Regions from separate parts of the Homo sapiens genome. Here regions 1 and 2 are each linked to region 3. The links come from fine-mapping of genetic effects on gene expression. A gene starts in region 3. Each other region holds a variant in brackets. All regions are shown on one strand. Distances are from middle to middle. Region 1 holds the start of KRTAP5-7 (keratin associated protein 5-7). Region 2 has its middle 21 kb from the start of KRTAP5-7. Region 3 holds the start of NADSYN1 (NAD synthetase 1).

Region 1 (7,763 bases), 74 kb after region 3:
AGGAGCAGGGACATCTGGTAAGCAGACTTCAGTTTCTTTTCAGTAATGTGCCCCTCTTATGCTCTCCTCAGGGTTTAGCATGCATCCCTTAAACAAAGAAAGTAGCCTCATATAAGCAATGGTTTTGTGACTAGAGTGCCTCAGTCCATTATTGCTGCTATAAGATAATAATTGACCTGGGTAATTGATAAAGAACAGAAATGTACTTTCTCAGAGTCCTGAAGGCTGGGAAGTCCAAGATCAAGGTGCTGATATCTGGTGTGGGCCTTCTTACTGTGTCTTCACATATTGGAAGGCAGAAGGGCAAGAGAGCATGAATATGTTGTCCTCACATGGCAGAAGAACAGAAAGGGGTGAATGCCCTCTCTCAAGTCCTTCTTGGAGCAGCACTAATTCATTCCAAGTACCTTTTGTTAGGCCCCACCTCCCAACACTCTTGCATTGGGGATGAAGTTTCTAATACATGAATTTTGGGGGACACATGCAGACCATGGCATAAAGGAACCTCTCTCCCCACATGGAGTACAACTGAGCAGGGAACCCAGCTGAGCAGCTGAAGTAAGCAGCCTAAGAGGAGTGAACACTCTGCCTGGGGAAGAGAGAAAACAACAGCAGAGAGACTTGTGAGATTTTCAGAAATAATTGAGTAGGGGAAAAGATTCCCCACAAACAACAAGATGAGGATAGATTATTCTTATTTGGATAGGAAAGGAAAGGATATTGTCTGGGTGCAGTGGCTCACACCTGCAATCCCAGCACTTTGGGAGGCCAAGGTAGGAGGATCACTGGAGGCCAGGAGTTTGAGACCAGCCAGAGCAACATGGCAAGGCCCCATCTCTACAAAAAGTTTAAAAGTTAGCTGGGTATGGTGATACATGCCTATATTCCCAGCTACCTAGGAGGCCAAGGCGGGAAGATTCCTTAAGCCCAGAAGTTTGAAGGTGCAGTAAGCTGTGGTCACGTCACTGCAATCCAGCCCAGGTGACAGAGGAAGACTTCATCTAAAAAAAAAAAAGTGATCCCCAGTAATATAGTTTGCATGCTTCCTCCAAATCTTATGTTGGTGGGGCCTGCTGGGAGGTGTTTGGATCATGGGTGTAGATTTTTCATGAATGGTTTAGCACCATCTCCTTGGTGATGAATAAGTTCGAGCAAGATCTGGTTGTTTAAAAATATGTGGCACTGACCAGGCATGGTGGCTCATGCATGTCATCTCAACACTTTGGGAGGCTGAGGTGGGCAGATCACCTGAGGTCAGGAGTTCGAGACCAGCCTGACCAACAGGGAGAAACCCTGTCTCTACTAAAAATACAAAATTAGCCAGGTGTGGTGGTGCATGCCTGTACTCCCAGCTATTCGGGAGGCTGAGGCAGGAGAATCACTTGAACCTGGGAAGCGGAGGTTGCGGTGAGCCGAGATCATGCCATTGTACTCCAGCCTGAGTAACAAGAGCAAAACTCCATCTCAAAAAAAAAATGTGTGGCCTCTGTCCCTCCACCAGCTCTCTCTTTCTCAGCTGTCACCATGTGGCATGCCTGCTCCTGCTTTGCCTTCTACCATGAATAAAAGCTCCCTGAGGGCCTCACCAGAAGCTGAGCAGATGTCGGTGCCATGCTTGTACAACTAGCAGAACCAGGAGCCAATTAAACCTTTTTTATTTATAAATTACCCAGCCTCAGATATTTCTTTATGGCAACACAAAAAATACAGAAAACTGTACCAGGAATGGTATGTTGCTATAAAGTCACCTGAAAATGTGGAGGTGACTTTGGAACTGGGTAATGGCCAGAGATTGGAAGATTTTTGGAGGGCTCAGAAGAAGACAGAAAGATGAGGAAAAGGTGGGAACTCCTTTGAGACTGGTTAAATGGTTGTGTCCAAAATAATTAAAGTGATAAGAACAATGAAGTCCAGCCTGATGAGGTCTCAGATGGAAATGAGGAACTTACTGAAAACTAAAACAAAGATCACTTGTGTTACACCTTGGCAGAGAGCTTGACCATATTGTGCTTCATGCCCTAGGGGGCTCTGAAAATTTCTACTTAGGAGTGATGACTTAGGATATCTAGTGGAAGAAATTTCTAAGCAGCAAACATTCAAGCTGTGGCCTGACTGAATCTAACATCGTATTCTCACATGCAAGAGCACATAAATGAATTAAAGTTGGAATTTATATTTAAAAGGGAATCAAAGTGTAAAAGTTTGGAAACTTTGCAGCATGGCCATGTGGCAGAGAATGAAAAAGCATTATCAGGAGAGGAATCCAAGCAGGCTATAGAGCAACCACCTGCTAGAGATATTAGCATGACTCAAAAAACAAACAAAAAAACCCAAGTGCTAATAGCCAACACAATTGGAAAAGACTTCAAATGCATTTCAAAAGTGTTTGAGACAGCCCCTCTCATCACTGACCTAGAGGTCTAGGAGGACACCATGGTTTCAGGGGCTCACCCCAGGCCCTCACTGCCCTGCATAGCCTTGGAGCACTGCTCCCCACACATAGGCTACTCCAGCTCCAGCCTCAGCTCAAAAGACCCCAAATGTAACTCTGGCTTCAGAGGGTGCAAGCCATAAGCCTTGGTAGCTCCCATGTGGTGTTAAGCCTGTAGGTGCGTAGAATACAAGAGTGAAGGAGGCTTGGGATCCTCTACCTAGATTGCAGAGGATTTATGAGAAAGCCTGGGCACTCAGGCAGAAGCCTGCTGCAGGGGCAGAGCCCGCACAGAGGATATATACTAGGGCAGTGTAGAGGGGAAATGTGGAGTAGGAGGCCCACACAGAGTCCCCACTGGGGCATTGCTTAATTGAGCTGTGGGGAGGAGGACACCATCCTCCAGGCCCCAGAATGGTAGAGCCACTGGCAGCTTACATCTTGAGCATGGAGAAGCTGCAGGCACACAACTCCAACCCATGAGAGCAGCTGCAGGGTGCGAACCTTGCAAAGCCACAAGGGTGGAGTTCCCCAAGGCCTTAGGAGCCCACCCCTCACTCCAGTGTACCCTGGATGTGGGACTGGGAGTCCAAGGACATTATTTTGGAGCTTTAAGATTTAATGGCTGCCCTGCTGGATTTCAGACATGCATGGGGTCTGTAGCCCCTTCCTTTGGGCTGATTTCTCCCTTTTGGAATGGGAATGTTTACCCAATGCCTCCACCCTCATGTATCTTCAAAGTAAATAATGTGTTTTGATTTTCACAAGTTCATTGGTGGAAGGGACTTGGACTTGGGACTTTGGACTTGATGTTGGAATGAGTCAAGACATTGAGAGGACTGTTGGGAAGAGATGATTCTATTCTGCAATGTAAGGACATGAGATTTGAGGGGTCAAGGGGATAATGATACAGTTGGGATGTCCCCTCCAAATCTCTTGTCGAAATGTAATCCCCAGTGTTGAAGGAGGGGCCTGCAAGGAGGTGTTTAGGTCATGGGGGCGGATCCCTCATGACTGGCTTAGCGCCATCTCCTTGGTGATGAGTGTGTTCACTCAGATCTGGTTGTTCGCAAGTGTGTGGCCCCTCCTCACCCCTTGCTCCCACTCTCACGATGTGGTGAGCCTGCTCCTGCTTCACCTTCCACCATGAGGAAAAGCTCCCTGAGGGCCTGCCCAGAAGCTGAGCAGAGGTGGGTGCCATGCTTGTGCAGCCTGCAGAACCATGAGCCATTCTAACCTTTCCTTTATAAATTACCCAGCTTCAAGTATTTCTTTAGAGCAATGCAAAACTGAGAATGGCATGAGTAAAATATAAAGACCATGGATAATTTTGAAATCTAAAAATGTGAAATTAATATTCCTGGGGGAGTCAACACAGGAAAGATGAGAGCACGTGGGCAAAGGCTGTTGCCCATTGGTCACATGTGGTCAGCAGAGAGCAGGTGACCAGCACCCTGGAGCTTTGCGGGAAGCACCAGACAGCCTGGAGCTGAGGTTTCAATTGTAGGGGCCAAAACAAATAGGGAAAAAGACAAATTTAGTAAACAAAG[A/G]AAGTAGATGCTCAACTGAGCCAGGAGGAAGTCACTAGCAAAGAGGAAAAAAAATAGAGCTCTGGAAAAATAGCGTAAACAGTCACAAGGAAGCGACCCTGTATTGTGCCTGACCTCTGGACAGGTATATAAAGAGCCCGGGCTCAGGGGGCTCCACACCTGCACCTCCCTCTCACCTGCTCCTCTACCTGCTCCACCCTCAATCCACCAGAACCATGGGCTGCTGTGGCTGTTCCGAAGGCTGTGGCTCCGGCTGTGGGGGCTGTGGCTCCGGCTGTGGGGGCTGTGGCTCTGGCTGTGGGGGATGTGGCTCCAGCTGCTGTGTGCCCGTCTGCTGCTGCAAGCCCGTGTGCTGCTGTGTGCCAGCCTGTTCCTGCTCCAGCTGTGGCTCCTGTGGGGGCTCCAAGGGAGGCTGTGGCTCCTGTGGGGGCTCCAAGGGGGGCTGTGGCTCTTGTGGGGGTTCTAAGGGGGGCTGTGGTTCTTGTGGCTGCTCCCAGTGCAGCTGCTATAAGCCCTGCTGCTGCTCCTCAGGCTGTGGGTCATCCTGCTGCCAGTCCAGCTGCTGTAAGCCCTGCTGCTGCCAGTCCAGCTGCTGTAAGCCCTGCTGCTGTTCCTCAGGCTGTGGGTCATCCTGCTGCCAGTCCAGTTGCTGCAATCCCTGCTGCTCCCAGTCTAGCTGCTGTGTCCCCGTGTGCTGCCAGTGTAAGATCTGAGGCTCTGGACTCAGGTCTCATGTGAGTCCTGCTAACCCCATTTTCCGAAGCTGTGACCTGTCCTTCATCGTTGAGCCCCAAACCACTGCTCAGGGTCCATTCCTCACTATAAGATGAAGCCATATCTGCCTGCCTTTTCCTAAGGAGAGTCCACCCTAATTAATGTCCATTCCCTCCTAACAAATTCTCTTCCCAAGTCAACTGCAACTGCGGCTGAATCACCCCTCACCCGCTAGCCTTGCCTTTGCTTGTGTATTCAGAGGCCTGAGCTCCTGAACCCACTTGAAGTCCTGTCTTTTCCAGCTGGAGCAGCTGGGCATGAGTGTCCCACCTGCAACAAGGTGGGCGTTTAAGAGGCTTCCTTGGAGTGGCTTTGCCTGTCCAACACTCTGCTTTATCTTAAATGAAAAGTTGCAAACTAATAAAAATACCATGCCGACAAACTGAAACACATATCTTGCTGATTTCTCTGTTGTTCGGGGTCATTACTATGGCTATGGCTATTGTTTTCTTGTTCTTGTTGTGTTTCGGACTGCGTGGGTCTGATGCTGATGTTGCTGGAAGGTGCTAGGATGGGGCTGGCTGTCTCCTCTGCCTCTCATCTCCTTCCTGGCTGACCCCTCTTTTCTCAGAACCCCTCTCTTCCTAGGTCTTTCCAGCTATTGATCTGATGGAGACAGGACTGTTCCTCAGGCCAGGGCCACAGAAGCAGAAGAGGCTGCTGAAAACTCTGGGGAGTTCAGACTTGCCTCCTTTCCCTGGTCCAGGCCTCTGCCATCTTCCTTTGGGAAGTTTTTGTAACCAACTTACTCTGATTGTCTTTGTTGTTACACAGCCTGTTGCCTCTGTAAATAAACACTCCTAGCACCAAGCCAATATTGCTTTTTAAGAATTTTGAAAGGGCCGGGCGTAGTGGCTCACGCCTATAATCCCAGCACTTTGGGAGGCCGAGGCAGGCGGATCACTTGAGGTTAGGAGTTTGCGACCTGACTGGCCAACATGGTGAAACCCTGTCTCTACTAAAAATATAAAAATTAGCTGAGTGTGGTGGCACGTGTCTGTAATCCTGGCTACTTCGGAGGCTGAGGGAGGAGAATGGCTTCAACCTGGGAGGGGGAGGTTGTGATGAGTCGAGGTCGCGCCACTGCACTCCATTCTGGGCGACAGAGCAAGACTCCGTCAAAAAAAAAAAAAGGCAATATTAATAGAGTTGAATTATTTCAAGTTATTTGGAAACACAGCAATTTATTGGTGGGATATGTCCTAAGCATAGAAAGAACACAAAAATAAAATTCCTAAGCTATTTTTAGTAGTCATGGTGGCAGCAGTGGTGTCGTTATTCTGCTGTGAATGCTGTATGGAAAAAGCAAATGCATAATTAGGTTGGTATCAGAACTAGAATTTTTGGTGTGGAACTGATGAGGTTAAGTAAAAACCTTGTCATCCTGAATTTGAATTAGATATATCGATATGAAATCATGATGTTTTTTATCCAAATAAAAATAGTTTCCTCCTCCATTGGAAGACTTAGAAATAATGAGCCATCCTGTAGCAGTGAACACTCCTAGCACCAAGACTGTTTGTTATCTTCAAATGCTATTTATTGTATCTACCTGGAACCTGGCTTCTCTGGTGAATGGGCTGGAAGCGAACAAGACAAATCTAGAACATCTTGTTATCCCAGAAAGCAGAGATGATAACTAAGACTAATGCAGTCACATCAAAAGAACTAAAGAGTCAGCCGGGCAAGGTGGCTCATGCCTGTAATCCCAGCATTTTGGGAGGCTGAGGCGAGTGGATCACTTGAGGTCAGGAGTTCGAGACCAACCTGACCAACATGGTGAAACCCTGTCTCTACTAAATACAAAAAATTAGCCAGGTGTGGTGGTGCATGGCTGCTGAGGCGAGTGGATCACTTGAGGTCAGGAGTTCGAGACCAGCCTGACCAACATGGTGAAACCCTGTCTCTACTAAATACAAAAAATTAGCTGGGTGTGGTGGTGCATGCCTGTAATCCCAGCTACATGGGAGGCTGAGGCAGGAGAACCCTTTGAACCTGGGAGGCAAAGATTGCAGTGAGCTGAGGTGGCGCCATTGCACTCCCGCCTGAGCAGCAAGAACAAAACTCTGTCTCAGAAAAAAGAAAAAAAAAATGGTGAGAGGCAAACCTAGAGAAACTCTCTGTAGACAGACTTGGGACAACCTGAACACCAATTTCTTAAATGGACTGATACACATCAAATATGTTTAAACTAGGAGTGAGTAATCATACACAAAAAATAATAATACAGATCCTATGCAAACTGTAAAACTTAGTTGCCTTTAGAGGATTCTAGGAATCAGTTCATTATTTTAAAGATGACTAAGTAAAGGAAAATAATCAGGCACTTATTCTATCTCTGACAGACAAACTCTATCTTATGGTAACAAAATTAGAGGAAGTATTCCAGTTTATAAATAAAGAAGAAATCATAGAATTAGAAACTCATCATTTTGTAACCCCTAATGAAATAATGGGGCTATCAAATTTACTGCATGCAGCCAAATCAGTGGAAAATTTATAGCCTTAAATGCATATGTTAGAGTAAAAATGAAAAACTTAAGCTCATTTAGCCAAAAACCTATCTATAGGACTGGCAGCATTGCCACGCAGAGCACAGAATGGGGTGATAATTAGGGCTATTTGTAGGCATCCTGGTTCTCCTCTCCTTCTGGGAACAGGTTGGATGGCAGGTAATAGGGTGGCCCTTTCATGAGCCCTCTCTAAGTCAGGTGTGGCCATGTGATTTGCTTGCGTCAGTGGGAAGAAGTTTGAAGCACCTGCTGCAGTTTTCTGCATTCTCTCTTTCTTCCCCCACCATGACCACTAACGTTCCAAGCAGTGGCTGCTGCTTCCGACTGAGTCCCAGAGTGATGAAGTACAGAGCAGAGTCACCAGCTGATGTGCAGTGACCTGCGATGTGAACAAGAAGTAAGCCTGTGTCGTGTGAAGTCACTGAAACGTGGGGGTGGCGCGTGTGAGCAGCGTAATTGGTCTATCCTGGTTGACCCAGAAACCTACCAGAACAC
Region 2 (6,672 bases), 54 kb after region 3:
GTTGTTGTCTTCTCCGTCACTTCCTCCAGAGTCTGTTACCCACGTCACATCGTGGATGCCCCCTGCCCGGATAGGTCTGAGTGCACTGGGGTGGCCGGCACCCCACACCTTCTCAGGGAGCACCCAGCAGGATACCTGAGATTCTCCTTAGGCCTTGGATGGGAGCTGGAGGCTTCTGGCTGCCTCCTGCACCCCAGATGTGTGGCAACGGGGTGGGGAGTGTGTCACCCGAAAGATGATCAGGTGAGGCTGGGACCCTGAAGGCAGCCCCATCCTGTGGAATTACCCTCGGAGGCTCCAAAACTTCCCACCTGCAGGAACTGAGCTCAGGGGCACCAGACCCTGGTCCCCAACCTTCAAGTTATAGGGTGGTGTCCCCCAGTTACAGGGCAGTGTCCCCAGTTACAGGATACTGTCCCTCAGTCATAGGTTAGTATCTTCTGGTTACAGGATAGCATCCCGTCAGTTACAGGGCAGTGTCCCCCCAGTCATAGCATAGTGTATCCCCAAGTTACAGGGTAGTGTCCCCAGTTATAAGGCAATGTTCCCCCATTATAGTGTCCCCAGTTATGAGGTAATGTCTCCCAGTTACAGGGTAATGTCCCCCAGTTATAGGGTGATGTCCCCACAGTTATAGGGTGATGTCCCCACAGTTATAGGGTGATGTCCCCACAGTTACAGGTGAATGTCCCCCCAGTTATAGGGTGATGTCCCCCAGTTATAGGTGAATGTCTCCCCAGTTATAGGGTAAGTCCCCACAGTTATAGGGTGACGTCCATCAGTTATAGGGCAATGTCTCCCCAGTTACTGGGCTGTGTCCCCCAATTACAGGGCAATGTCCCCTCATAGTGTCTCCCAGTTATACAGTATTGTCCCCCCATTATAAGGTAGTATCCCCAGTTACTAGATAGTGTCCCCCAGTAACAGGATAATGTCCCCCAATTGCAGGGCAATGTCCCCCATTATAGTGTCCCCAAGTTATAAGCTGGAGTCCCCCAGTAACAGGATAATAGGATAGTGTTCCCCAGTACAGGGCAGTGTCCCCAGTTACTCACTAGTGTCCCCTAGTAACAGGGCAGTGTCCACCCAGATACAGCCTAGTGTCCCTCAGTTACACAATAGTGTGTCCCCCAGTGGTAGGACAGTCTACTACTGAGTCCTCCTGGCATGAGTCGAGCTGAGATTAGGATAGGGTAATGACCCTTCAGTTTTGGGGAAGGGACCAGAGCTCGGCCAGTGAGAAGCTTCCAGCTCCGTCTGGCCATATCCAGGCTGCTGAGGGTCCTGGGCTCTGTCCTTAAACCTCATCACTGACATGACCCAGCAAACCTCCTCAAGAGGAAAAAGTCCCCTTGGGTCAAACACAGCTTGTGCAGTTCTCGGGGACCTCCTCCTGCCATCCTGGGGATGCTGTGGAGAATGGAGATGCACAGGGGGCTTTGTCCTCTCCTCTGCCTTTTGGAGAAAATATTTCACTCAAGGCAAACGCAGCCTGAGGGCAGCACAGGGGACCCCAAGGCTCACTGCGCATTTCTAGTCGCCCCCAAACGCGTGGGTTTTCCTCCTGTTCTCCTCGTGGGTGCCTTTGCTCATTCTCATCCTCCTGTTCTCATCCAGTCTGCCCAGTCTGACCGGCTCCCAGCAGCATCCGCCCAAAAGTTTCTCCCATGACAGCAGGAAGCAGCCTCAGACAATACATGATGGACAGGCCTGGCTGTGTTCCAATAGAACCCCGAGTCAGTCAGCCCGAGCCTCCCTCTCAGCTGGATACTGTTAATGACAGGGGTACACATTCCCCTCCCCTTTCCAATGTTTTAAAACTCTAGGACAGTGATTCTCAAACACTTTGGTCTCAAAACCCCTAAGAGCATTTGCTTATGTGGCTTTTATCTGTTGATAGTTGCTACCTGAGAAATTAAAACTGAGAAATCTAAAAATAGATTTATTTTAGGAAGTCACTAAAAATAATAAGCCCATTGCATGTTAACATGAAATAGCATATTTTTACAAAAAAATAAATTTTCTAAAAACAAAACATCTAAGTGAGAAGAGTGGCATTGTTGTACTTGTTTTGCAAATCTTTTCAGTGTCCGGTTTATGAGATGACAGCACTTTGGTTTGTTGCCAACCATTCACTTATAAAGAAACCCTTTTCCAATAATTAGCTGGGGCTGGTGCTAGAGCAATACCAGAAGTTCAGCGATGTCTGTAGATTTGTCCAAATGTATGTGAAGAGACTGTGTTTACTCAGTTTTTATGTTTGCAGTTAAATCTTCAATTTGATGAGTTATTTTATCATTGCAAAGTGGCAGTGTCAGGGTTTCCTTTATTGACTTATCCAGCAGGCATTCAGCTATATCAACTCTACATATGAAGTAAGGAGTTGAATTAAGCAGAGTAGTTAATAAAAAGCTTTTTTTTTTCATGTTTTAAAAATGTGACGTTGTCAGGCCTCTGAGCCCAAGCTAAGCCATCATGTCCTCTGTAACCTGCACGTACACATCCAGATGGCCGGTTCCTGCCTTAACTGATGACATTCCACCACAAAAGAAGTGAAAATGGCCTGTTCCTGCCTTAACTGATGACACTATCTTGTGAAATTCCTTCTCCTGGCTCATCCTGGCTCAAAAGCTCCCCTACTGAGCACCTTGTGACCTCCACTCCTGTCTGCCAGAGAACAACCCCCCTTTGACTGTAATTTTCCTTTACCTACCCAAATCTTATAAAACGGCCCCACCCCTATCTCCTTTCGCTGACTCTTTTCAGACTCAGCCCGCCTGCACCCAGGTGAAATAAACAGCCTTGTTGCTCACACAAAGCCTGTTTGGTGGTCTCTTCACAC[C/T]GATGCGAGTGAAAACTGTTTTATTTCTACCCGCAGGCGGGGCCTGCCAGAGGAGGTAGGTGTGCTGGGCTCAGGGGACGTGTGGGCTGTGAGGAGGAGATGGTGACAGGAAGCTGGAAGGAAAGGGGGTGGCTTTGGAGGCCAGGCCGAAGGGGCCCTCAGGTCTGCTTGTAGGGTGGGATAGCCTTGAGGAGGGAGTCATGGCAATGCACAGCCAGGCTGCCAATTTTGAATTAAGAAATTCTTGGAAATCTAGCTGCCTGTTACTGTTGACATCCAGTCTTTTCGTCATGCAGTCAAGGACACTGCGGTCCTTCTGCTTCTTTGTGACGGCAGCCTCTTCTGTGTTCATGAAGCTTAGGAACTCCGTCTTGGAGAGAGCAGTTGTAACCATCCTCTCCAGGATCCTTCTGGAAAACAGCAATCAGGGACTCAATGCACCACTCAGTCTCTGCAGGGCTGGAGATTTTTGCCAGGTTGTAGCTGAGTGAGGCATGGGAGGCTGTACTTGGGAGTGGTGTGGAGACCTCTGGTAAAAAGCTTTTGAAAAGGATGATTCTATTCCATTAGGATTGGCTTATATGAGGGGAAAAATAGGATTGTATATAGTTAAAGAAAAAACAATTCATTGGCCCATGTCAGATCTAACAAATCAAAACACATGGAAGCTGTGGCGTCCTAATCAGGGAAAAGGAGCCAGGGTGGCAGGACCAAGGGAAAGCAAAAAGAGAAAGCAGATAAGCTACAAGTCTGCATTTCTTCACAGTCCAGCACACACAGCCCTCCTGTGCATATAGCTCACAATCTTCCCATGCCCAGGTATCACCAGACCCTCAGCTGATAGAAAAATGCAAGTTAGCTCACTGCAACCTTGGCATTGTAGGTATTGTATGCAGCCCTCTTCAGCACATGGCCCAGGAACCATCCTGTAAAATCCCCTGCAAGCCTTTGTCTCCTTGCAGTCAGCTCCTCTTCTCCTGGCCTGCCCATTGCCTTCTTGCAATGTACTTCCTTCCTTTCTTTAATAAATCTGCCTTTTTTTAAAACCTACAAGTTTCTTGGTAAACTCTTTTACCCCTGTGACACCAGCCTCAGATAGTCGCCATCACCCACCATAGAAGCTACTCCTGGAGAGCTGATTATTTTTAATTTGCAGATAATTTATTCGTGTATTTTTCAAATACGTATTGCGACTCCTCTTCTGGTTCTGATGGAACAGCTCATATTTGAGCTACAGAATCACTGAGAACAAGTAGGAAAGCCAGAAAAAATTAACACAAAACAGCAGTTGAAAGCACTAGAGAGAAACCCAGGTGTCCAGGACAGGAGGTGCCTGGATCCTGGTGAGAAGGGAAATGAATGCATCAGGTGCCAGCGCTCCACTCTCCTCCCGTGGGGCCTCTGCCCATTCGTTAGCGACAGAGAGAACAAGAGCACAAGCAGAAAGCAGCTGAGGCATTGGCAGTTCCTTCCGAAAATCAGACTTTAGGGTGACAAAGGCAGCCAGAGCTTGCAGGGCAAAGCTTCCAGGGAAAAGAAGAGCTCAGAGAAGTGAGTCCAGTGTGCAGCAGCTCCTCTTCCCTTGAAGATTATGAAACTGCCTGGGGAAAGAGGACAAGGAGCTAAGCAAAAAGCATCCATGAAGAGCCTTTAAAGCAAAACAGAGATTATGGAGGTTTTGTAGCTCTGGAAAATAAATATTTAATTTTAGGATTAATAAGAAAGGGCTTGGTAAAAACTTAAGGCTTTCTATTGAAACCCCTCAAGACTATATACTGGGAGAAGTACAGGCCAGAAATAGAGACTCCTTCACAAAGAATAAAGCCTGGCCTCTTATCTTACTGCCTCACTGGATCAATGTGATCTGCTGCTTGTCTAACTGTTTCGCAGAAGGAAAACAAATGGTCTCTGCAAGAAAGTAACATCACTCAAAACCTTTCTCAGTTTTTTATACTCTTTATCTGGTATTCAATAAAAGATCACTAGGAACTCTATAAAAATATACTTAAAATGTAATATAAATCATAATACATACAAAGCTATAAAAATATATTCAAAATATCAAACCCAACATAAGCAGAAGAAGAAAAAAATCCAGATAAGAACAGAAATCAGTGAAATTAGAGACAAAAAATAGAGAAAATAAATGAGACAAAAATCTAGTTCTTTAAAAAAAATCAGTAAAATTAACAAACCTCTTGCTAGACCAACAAAGAAAAAAAAGAGAGGATACAAGGATACAAACTATAAGCTTCAGGAATGGATACCAAGTTTGGGGATATCACTACAGACCCCACAGACATGAACCGGATAATGAGCAAACGGTGCAAGCAACTCTACACATAGAAATTCAACAGCTTATGTGAAGCAGACCAACTCCTCAAAAAGCACAAACTACCAACATTCAGCCAGGACAAAATAGATAATTTGGATAGCTCTATAATTATTAGGGGAATTGAATGTGTAGTTTTAAAATGCCAAAAGAAAGTTGGAATTTTAAATTTTCAGATGCAGAGAATTACCAAATTTTTAAAGACTGAACACCAATTCTACATAATCTCTGGAAAATAGTGGAGAAGAGAACCCTTCCAAATTCATTTTAAGGGGCCAGTATTACCCTGATAGCAAAACCAGACAACGACAATACAAAAAAAGAAATAACCAATGCCCCTCATGAACATAGACACAAAATCTTCAACAAAAGAAAGCAAATAGAATCCAGCAATATATTAAAGAATTACAAACCATGACCAAGTGGAGTTTATTCCAAGCATGTAAGACTAGCTCCACATTTGGAAGTAAATCAATGTGATCCACTGTGCTAACAGGCTGTAGAAGAAAACTCACACAATTGCATCAATTGGGACACAAAGAAAGCATTTGGAAATTTTTACCACCTGTTCATAATTTTTAAAAAACTCAGCAAACTAGGATTAGAGTGTCACTTCATCATCTACAAAAAACCTATAGCCAATTTTAGGCTTAATGGTGATAACTGAATGTTTTCCCCTAACATTTGGAGCAATTACAAGTGTCCACTCTCACCACTCTTCAACATAATGAAGTTCTAGCCAGGGCAATAAGGCAAGAGAACTAGAAGATATACAGATGAGAAATGAAGAAATATTTGCACACACCATAGTAGTCTATGTATAAAATCTCAAGGAATCTACAACAAAAACCCAAGAACTAATAACAGTGAGTTCAGCAAGGTCTGAGGATTTAGATCGACACACAAACATCAATCATTTCTCAACCTTACATCTGATTAGGTGTGAATATCAAAAATATATAAGGAATTCAACCAACTTAACAGCAAGAAAACAATTCAATTAAAAATGAGCAAAGGATCTGAACAGTTCTCAAATGAAGAGATATGAATAGCCAACAGATATATGAAAAATGCTCAACATCTCTAAGAATCAGGAAAATGCAAATTAAAGCCACAATGAGATATAACCTCACACCTGTTGGAATCACTGTTATCAAAAAGACAAAAGATAACAAGTGTTGATGAAGATGTAGATAAAAAGGGAACACTTGTACACTGTTAATGGGAATGTAAATTAGTACAGCTGTTAAAAAAATAGTATGGGGGTTCCTCAAAAACTAAAAATAGAATTACCATATTATCTGGCAATTCCACTTCTGGGTATATATCCAAAGGAACTGACATTGATTTGCTGAAGAGATATATTCACTCCCACATTTATTTCAGCATTATTCACAATAGCGAAGATATGGAAGCAAACTAACTGTCTATCAATGGATGAATGGGTAGAGAAAATGTGTATATACACAATGGAATACTATACAGCCTTTAAAAGGAA
Region 3 (7,763 bases):
GTGGCGGAGTGGCCACGTGGGCCGCGCGGAGAACGCGCCAGGCTCATCACCTGGATCATCGTGCCTCAGTTTCCCCCTCGGCAAATGGGGCTTCAGCGGCTCGCGACGCACATTGATGGAGCGTATGTCCAGGCGCCGGTGCACCGCAAGGAGCAAAACAGACACAGTTCTTGGTCCTAGGGCTCACGTCCCGGGGCGAAGAGGATCCTCCATAAACGATCAGGTAAACACATGGGTGTCAGGGAAGGCTCGCCGCTGGGAGACCGCCAAAGTGACCCGAGATGGAGTCTGGGTGGCCTGCTTATTAGGGGGGCACACCTGTGCGAGGACGGGAGGGGAGGGAGCAGCAGGACTGGGCAAAGGGAGAAGCTGAGCCACAGTGCGAGCCGGACGCACGGGCCACGTTGCGAGGGCATGACCTGGGGCGAGGCAGCCCTGGAGGAGGGGGCAGCTGAAGGTGTCTGCTGACCCCACACCCAACAGCTCGGGTAACAGGCCTTACTGTCAGAGCGATCTGGTTGCCACGTCTCTGTGGCCCTCAGAGAGACATCATGTTTTCTTTTTTCCCTGCACCTTTTTGTTTTGAAAAATGTTCAGCATACAAACAAGTTGAACGTAAAGTGAGCACGCAGATTCCTAGGTTCAGCAGGGGTGAGCAGCTGGCCACGTTTCATTTCTCTCCCTCTGTGTTTATATATGTGTATTTTTCTTTTTTCCTCCCCACTCAGCCCCCACCATTAGCTGCAGATACCGTGATACCCCCCTCCCAAATACTTCGGTATCCAACTCCTTAAGAACAAGAACCTCCTATATTACCAAAATACAATGACCACATCAGTTCAATGCTGTTATCTATTTTCCATCTCCAGTTTCCCGCGGTTGTCCCAATAATGCCCTTTACAGCCCTTTTGTTATTGTTGTTTTGTTTTGCTTTGTTAAGACGGGGGTCTCTGTCACACAGGCTGGAGTGTAGTGGCACGATCACAGCTCACTGCAGCCTTGAACTGCTGGGCTCAAGCGATTCTCTTCCCTCACCCTCCTGAGTAGCTGGGACTACAAGAGCACACCACCACACGCTATTTTTTTTTTGGTAGAGATGGGTGGGGGGGGGGGTCTCACTATGTTCCCCAAGCTGGTCTCGAACTCCTGGGCTCAAGCGATCCACCCACTGTGGCCTCCTACAGTGCTGGGACTACAGGTGTGAAGCTCTGCCCTACAGCCCTTTTTTAAACCCCAGGATCTAATCAGGGAGCCACACTGTGCATTCAGGCTATGCACTTTTTTTGGCAGGATAATATACTACATAGAGCATGTTTTATCTTGTTAGAAGGCTGTCAACCTGAAATAACCAAACAGGTCAGAATTTAGCTTAAAGAGAGTTTATTTAAGTGTATAAAGTTTGAGGACAGGCTGCCTGGGAAGCACAGATTTTAAAGAATGGAAATCAGTATTTTGAACTGTAGATGTTTGGGATCATTTATGTAGACAAATTTTAGGGAAGTTTAACAGAATTTTAACATCTTTTTATGCATAAAGTTATAATCTGACCAGCTGAGGTGGTCTTTTTTAGGTGGAAGGTATATTTAACATTTTACACTGAAGATGTAGGAGTCTGGTCTAAGTACGGGATAATAAGAGACAATCTATAATAAAGATCAGTAATTAAAAGGGGAGCAGGCCTGGTCTGTGGTCTCTCCTAGTCATTTATAAAACATGAATGATAAAGAAAAACAGCCTATAATCTAAAAGACAAAATTACAAACATGCTATGTGACCCAGTTTCTAGGACTTAACTTCCCTCTTGACATAATAAATTTATTTATTTTTATTTATTTATTTAAAGACAGGATCTTGCTCTGTTGCCCAAGTTGACCTAATAAATTTCAAGAGTCCTAAAATTTTCTTTTTTAAGACAACATATCACTGTGCTCCATGATTGATAGTGGGGCTCCGTGGTTTCTGCCAGAAGTCTCCATTTTTCCTTTTGTTATTAATGAGTAATTGGTGCAGTGATACTTTGAGACTGTAAATATGCTGTTCCCAAATGACCTTTCACCCAGTGAACTAGCATTTAATGAGGAATCTTGCCTGAATCCCTTATTTCTTGGGACAAAGTGTTAATTTTCTAATTTTATCATTCCCTCAACATTTATTAATAAATTATTTATTAGCAAGCATTCTTCTGTAGGGATTTCCTCTTTGATTTATTTTTTATCAGTATGCCCTAATGGATTTAGCTGACCGAGTTATGATCCTTACTGTATTGTCCTGTATTTAGCTAACGGGAGCCCCTTCAAATTGGCTTCTTTTTTCATATGACATGTATCTACCATCCTTTGAGTACTTACTTATTTTCTGGGACAACCAGATGTTCAAGGATCCTCCCCTTCTCTGCCCAGGCCTGGCATCAGCCATTGTTGGCAGGAGATAATTTGAGCAGATCGTGTGGATTTCAGAAGCATGAAAACTACTGTGAGGATTAAATAAGTTAGCATGTATAACATTCTGGTGCTTTTGTGGAGTTTCCAAATTGTCATGAACAAGCACTACTTTATAGACAGGAAAAAAAGTGATTCAAAATGTGAAAACGGGTATATGTACATAAGGTAAAAATAAAATCCTAAGCCCCCCATTGACCAAAGGGACCTTCTCCTGACCAAGGGGACACCAGAAAAACCTCAACACTGAATTCCCAGACATGATGGGATGGGAGGTCAGATGCGCCTGGTAATAGCCCCCTGTTTCAGAGTTTGGACACCACAACTGGCCGGCATTCATGTTAAAACAGAGATCGTAAGACTGACAGAACGGACTCTGTGGCAATAAGATACCAAATTATAAACAGGACCCAAAGCCATGCTAGGCGAGGGTAAGTCAGGCAACCCACACTTAGAGAATAAACTATATTCTAAGAGCCACAAGGCTTTCTGTTTCTCTATTAGCCAAACACACACTAGCCTTGGGATAGGGAATATTAAAACAATTGCAGCTCCACTAGGTGCCAACTAACTGACTCTGTTTCACCAGCCATAGCAGCTGTGATTGGACAAGAGACTGATTTCAGTGACTTTCTCCTAATAAGAGACCACCGACCAGCTGACCATGCCGACCAGCTGACCCGTTAATAGAGAGAGATGATGCACCTGCATGCCTTTGTGTCCTGAAAAGACGTTTTGCCATAAAGGCCCTAATTGTAAGATGTGTAAATGTTAAGTCTCCACCCCAAAGTGAACATGGGTCATATATTACATGCTTTGCTCAATAAGAGGGCATGTGTCAGGACCACCTTCATGAATATTCATAGCTCCTCCTGTTACCTGTTGAATATGTATGTTTAGCCAATCCCTTCAGCATAGCGCTCCTGCCCCAACCCCTCCTCCTTGGACGTGCCTGTCTCTGGCCTTGGCTGGAGACAGATTCCCAGCCTCAGACAGATGGCCGCCACCTTGCAGGCTACGACCGTTTACAAGAAATAAAGCCTTCTCTTTTTCCAAATTTGTGAATTGTGTGTTTTTAAACTAACATGAATGACAGAAGGAAGGATGGCCTCTTCAAGCAACGATGATGAGGCAGTTATTTATATGGGGGAAAAATGGATTCTACCGTGGGTGGACTAAAGAGGAAATGTGAAAAAATAAAAAGTGAGAAACCGCTGGTAGTGAATCGGTGCAAGCGCCCTGGAGAAGAGACTTGGCAATATTTAGTAAAGTCAAACAGCACGAACCCTACTACTCTGCAAAGCTGCTGCAGGAACTGGCGGAACGAGGTCACGAAGGAAACCTTGCCGGAAAGGAAATTGCAGCAGTGCCTGTGTGCGTGCGTCTGTTGGCAAAACGCTGCTAATAACGTCAATGCCCATCCGCTATTGAATAAACCTGCTTTACTGCCACTATGGAATACCAAACTGCAGAAAAATAATTAAAAGAACGTATCTCATATTACAGGGGAAAAAATCAAGTTGCAGAAGCACATTCAAGTGCAGTTCCTGTAGTTTCAGAAAAGGCAAACAGTGCGCTACCTGAGCTACTTACACACGTGGTACAGGAGTGAAAGGGGCAGGAGAGGGTTCCCAAGAATTCAGCGCCATCCGCCCAGGGTGGCGGGATTCCCAGCACGGAGAATCGATTGCTATCGTCTGCTGTCCCGCGGGCACGATGGAGCGCTCCTACCGTACTCTCCACTTTTGGTGTATTTGGAACGTTTCATGCCGTATTAAAATAAAACATGGCTAAGCTGGATGTGGGGTGGCGGTGTGGGATAAAATAGAGGGGTGCTGCAGCTGGGCGGTGAGCCCCCTGCACCTGTGCACCTGAACGGGTTTGCCCGCAAGGGCCGGGCCGGGGCCGGGGCCTGGGACGTGGGTGGAGCCGGGGCGGGGGCGGGGCCCTTCGCGGTGCCGTGAACGCTGAGGCCACCTCGCTGCGCAGGCGCGGTCGTGAGCTCCTCAGACGGGGCGGGGCGATCCGTAGGCAGGGCCTGACGCCGCAGTCCTCCTTGGCCGGAGCCTCAACGGATGGGCGGGGAGGGGGCGGGGCCGGGCAACCCGGAAGGTCCGGCGTCCCAGCCGCCTACCTCGCTGGGACCCTGGTCTTGCTGTCCCCCGCTGGCCTCCTGCCCAAGCGACTGCGGCCAGGATGGGCCGGAAGGTGACCGTGGCCACCTGCGCACTCAACCAGTGGGCCCTGGACTTCGAGGGCAATTTGCAAAGAATTTTAAAGAGTGAGTCTGGGGCGGCGGGGGCACCGGTTTGGGGTGGCGCACGGGCACCGTGGCTGGGCCCAGGCTTGCCCGTGGCGTGCTCACAGCCTTGCCCTGGGAAACTCTCGGCCCTGGGCATGGGATCAGGTGAGATAATGGGCAATGACCCCGCCAGTGGTACGTGCTCAGGTCCTCGTCGGGAAGTGAGTGTTTATAGTTCCCGGGGACGAGCGATATACAAGGCACGGTTAAGAAAAGTCTGGCGGCTTAGGCGGGAGGCCTGGGGATGGACCCGTGTTCTGATATCTCTGGGGTCCCGTGGTTGGGACTGAGCTGCCCATTCTCGGAGATATCTAAGTTGAACAGAATGGCTGCGCACTGGCGGGGATGGTGTGCAGAGGCCAGAGATTGATGGTCTCTGGTCCCCGTGGGCCTTCCTGGTGGGAGAAGGCGTCCCAGAAAGGGAAGTAGAAAAAGACGCCTGTCATCCCAGCATTTTGGGGGGGCCGGAGGGGGTGGAAGTCACCTGAGGTCAGGAGTTCAAGACCAGCCTGGCCATCATGGTGAAACACCGTCTCTACTAAAAATACAAAAATCAGCCGGGCGTGGTGGCCTCGAAGATAGGGTGTGGTTGTTGAAAGGTCACCATCTAATTTTCGTTCATATGGACGCACCGTGGAGGATGAAAAGTTAAACTATTACACCTGCACCTAAATGGGCAAGCCTGCAGGTGTAGTCAGGTTGCAGCTTGTCTTGCACTGGTCTGCTGACTGCAAGAGCCTTTGCCAGGAACAATAGAAACAGAATGTTTCAAGAGATGGCATCTAATCAGTATGTGCCCTGGATTATTATTATGATTATTATTATTTGACATGGACTGTCACTCTGTTGCCCTGGCTGGAGTGCAGTGGTGTCATCTTGGCTCACTGCAGTCTCTGCCTCCTGGGCTCAAGCGATTCTCCTGCCTCAGCCTCCTGAGTAGCTGGGATTACAGGCGTCTGCCACCATGCATGGCCAATTTCTGTATTTTTAGTAGAGACAAGGTTTCACCATGGTGGCCATGCTGGCCTCGAACTCCTGACCTCAAGTGATCCACCTGCCTTGGCCTCCCAAAGTGCTGGGATTCCAGGCATGAGCCACCGCAGCCAGTGGTTTTTTATTTTTATTTTTTAAATATCAACCTGCTTTCACCTCATTTGCTCAGAGCAAATCTAGTTGAACTGAAGAAGGCTTGGCCAAAACTAAGTTTCCACTCTGCCAGCCTCTCCTCCCTAGGTGCTTGTTGGAAGCTGCTGCCCAAGACCAGTAAGCCGATGGTGCCTGACAGTGGCACCACTGCTGGATCGTAATCCTCTAAGTCCTTTTTCCTCTAGATGGTGTTGGGCATTTCCTTGTTAATAAACTACCAGGGTCTGACTTCTTCCTCTTCCTCCGCCTCCTCCATGGTGCTAAGGGTCAGACCTGCAAGCCCTCCCTGTTTCTCATTTCCTGCAGATATAAGCAGGTATATGCAAGTATAAGCAGGTGCAGGCGTACTCGTGTATACAGGTGTATACAGGTGTATGCTGCCCTCTGCTGCCATGCTGTCAACAGGAAGCCTGACTGCATCCCGTCTGGGAAGGCACAGAGCATTTTTGTTTGTTGTTTGTTTTTTTTTTTATCCTACCTACTGCAGCAGGTTGTTTCATCTGTCTTTGAGTGTATAGGTGCTGAAATTGCTCCATTTTCTTTTTCTCTCTGTACTTACAGGTATTGAAATTGCCAAAAACAGAGGAGCAAGATACAGGCTTGGACCAGAGCTGGAAATATGGTGAGAACAGACACAGACACCCTGGGGTCGTCAGCTAGCGATACCAGCATCAGTTTTCCCCAGCTGAGAAGGCAAGGAAGGAGCAGGGACAGTCCTGAGAGCTGTGGACACGCCACACCCACTGTTGGGCCTGGTTAATGCCATTGAACACCTGAGCAAGGGCAGGCCCAGGGAGGCTGAATAAGTCTAGATTCCCATGTTGAGTAATTAAAAGAACTGACTTTTACCAGATGAAGGCCAGTTTCAAAGTTGGGCTGCTTCTGTGTTACCACTGCCCTTTTGCTGTGGTCTGAATGTTTGCGTCCCCACAAAATTCATATGTTGAAACCTAACCCCCAGATGATGGAATTAAGAGATGAGGCCTTTGGCAGGTGATTGGGTCATGAGGGCATGAGAGTGGAGCCTGCATGAATGGGATTAGTGCTCTTACAAGAGAGGCCCAAAGGAGCTTGTTGGCCCCTTCTACCATGTGAGGACACAGAGAAGGAGACAACCAGTCCTTACCAGATACCAAATCTGCCAGCACCTTGATCGTGGGCTTCCCAGCCTCCAGAACTGTGAGCAATACATTTCTGCTGTTTATTAATTACCCAGTCCAAGGTGTTTTGTTATAGCAGGCTGAAGGACCAAGACATATTCCCAGGTTTTCATTCCGTGATCTCAGAATCTTTCCACAAGCAAGCATAGGTTATCGTTTCTTATATGCCTTTTTGTAAAAATCAGGAAAACTGATTGCTTATTTCCCTTCTTGTCCCTTCAAAAACAAAAACAAAAATGAAAACAAAACAATGAGTAGCCACGTTGTAAGTCTCTTGTAAGCGATAGTCCTTTCTCATTTTGGATGTCAGCTGCCATCTGTGCTCTGCTAGTTTCCCGTTGGTCTTTAGGCCTCTGACCCGTTGTGGGATCTGGAAGTTCCTCTTCAGTCTTTGTCCCCTGCCTTAGTGTGTGTTCTTGCTTCTGGACTTAGAGTAAGCAGGAACTGTCTTCTCTTAGGAGGTTTTGTGTGAGTCCAGAGGCATCTTTCTCTAAGTCCTTCCAAGTTTCTTTCCTTCATTAGATTGATTTCTCTCCTTAGAATACCACCTTCAAATAGGGCTGTTTCTCCCATAATATCCAAGAATGTTTACTTTGTTCTTTAATTTGTCTTCATTTGATTGATTCTTTAAGAAATTCTTCACCTAAGTGCCAAGGGATCTAGGGTTCTGGGCTGTCTGATATCACAAAGCTTCGATCCTCTCCTGGCCCCGTGGCC

Evidence for each region. PIP is the estimated chance that this variant, and not a neighbour inherited with it, causes the effect. A credible set is the group of variants that fine-mapping cannot tell apart.
Region 1: its variant is the best candidate, but not a certain one, in a credible set for the expression of NADSYN1 in whole blood (TOPMed, PIP 0.56).
Region 2: its variant is the best candidate, but not a certain one, in a credible set for the expression of NADSYN1 in thyroid (GTEx, PIP 0.86).

What each region holds. Positions count from the first base shown.
Region 1 is chr11:71,523,105-71,530,867 of GRCh38, forward strand. KRTAP5-7 (keratin associated protein 5-7) reads left to right here and starts at 4,163. Exons shown (of 1, transcript NM_001012503.2): 1 at 4,163-5,565. The coding sequence starts at 4,197. The coding sequence ends at 4,694. RefSeq lists enhancers at 4,051-4,552, 4,553-5,052. The variant A/G (reference allele first, on the strand shown) is at 3,982.
Region 2 is chr11:71,503,061-71,509,732 of GRCh38, forward strand. It overlaps the pseudogene S100A11P3. Among named protein-coding and RNA genes, the nearest start is that of KRTAP5-7, 21 kb to the right of the region's middle. RefSeq lists an enhancer at 2,311-2,901. The variant C/T (reference allele first, on the strand shown) is at 2,843.
Region 3 is chr11:71,448,663-71,456,425 of GRCh38, forward strand. It overlaps NADSYN1 (NAD synthetase 1), which reads left to right and starts at 4,541. Exons shown (of 21, transcript NM_018161.5): 1 at 4,541-4,719; 2 at 6,448-6,508. The coding sequence starts at 4,635. DHCR7-DT (DHCR7 divergent transcript) reads left to right here. Exons shown (of 2, transcript NR_186309.1): 1 at 1-223; 2 at 3,028-3,495. It also overlaps a transcript of DHCR7 not described here. RefSeq lists silencers at 1-37, 4,270-4,639 and enhancers at 1-264, 3,210-3,259, 3,380-3,459, 4,697-5,198, 5,199-5,698.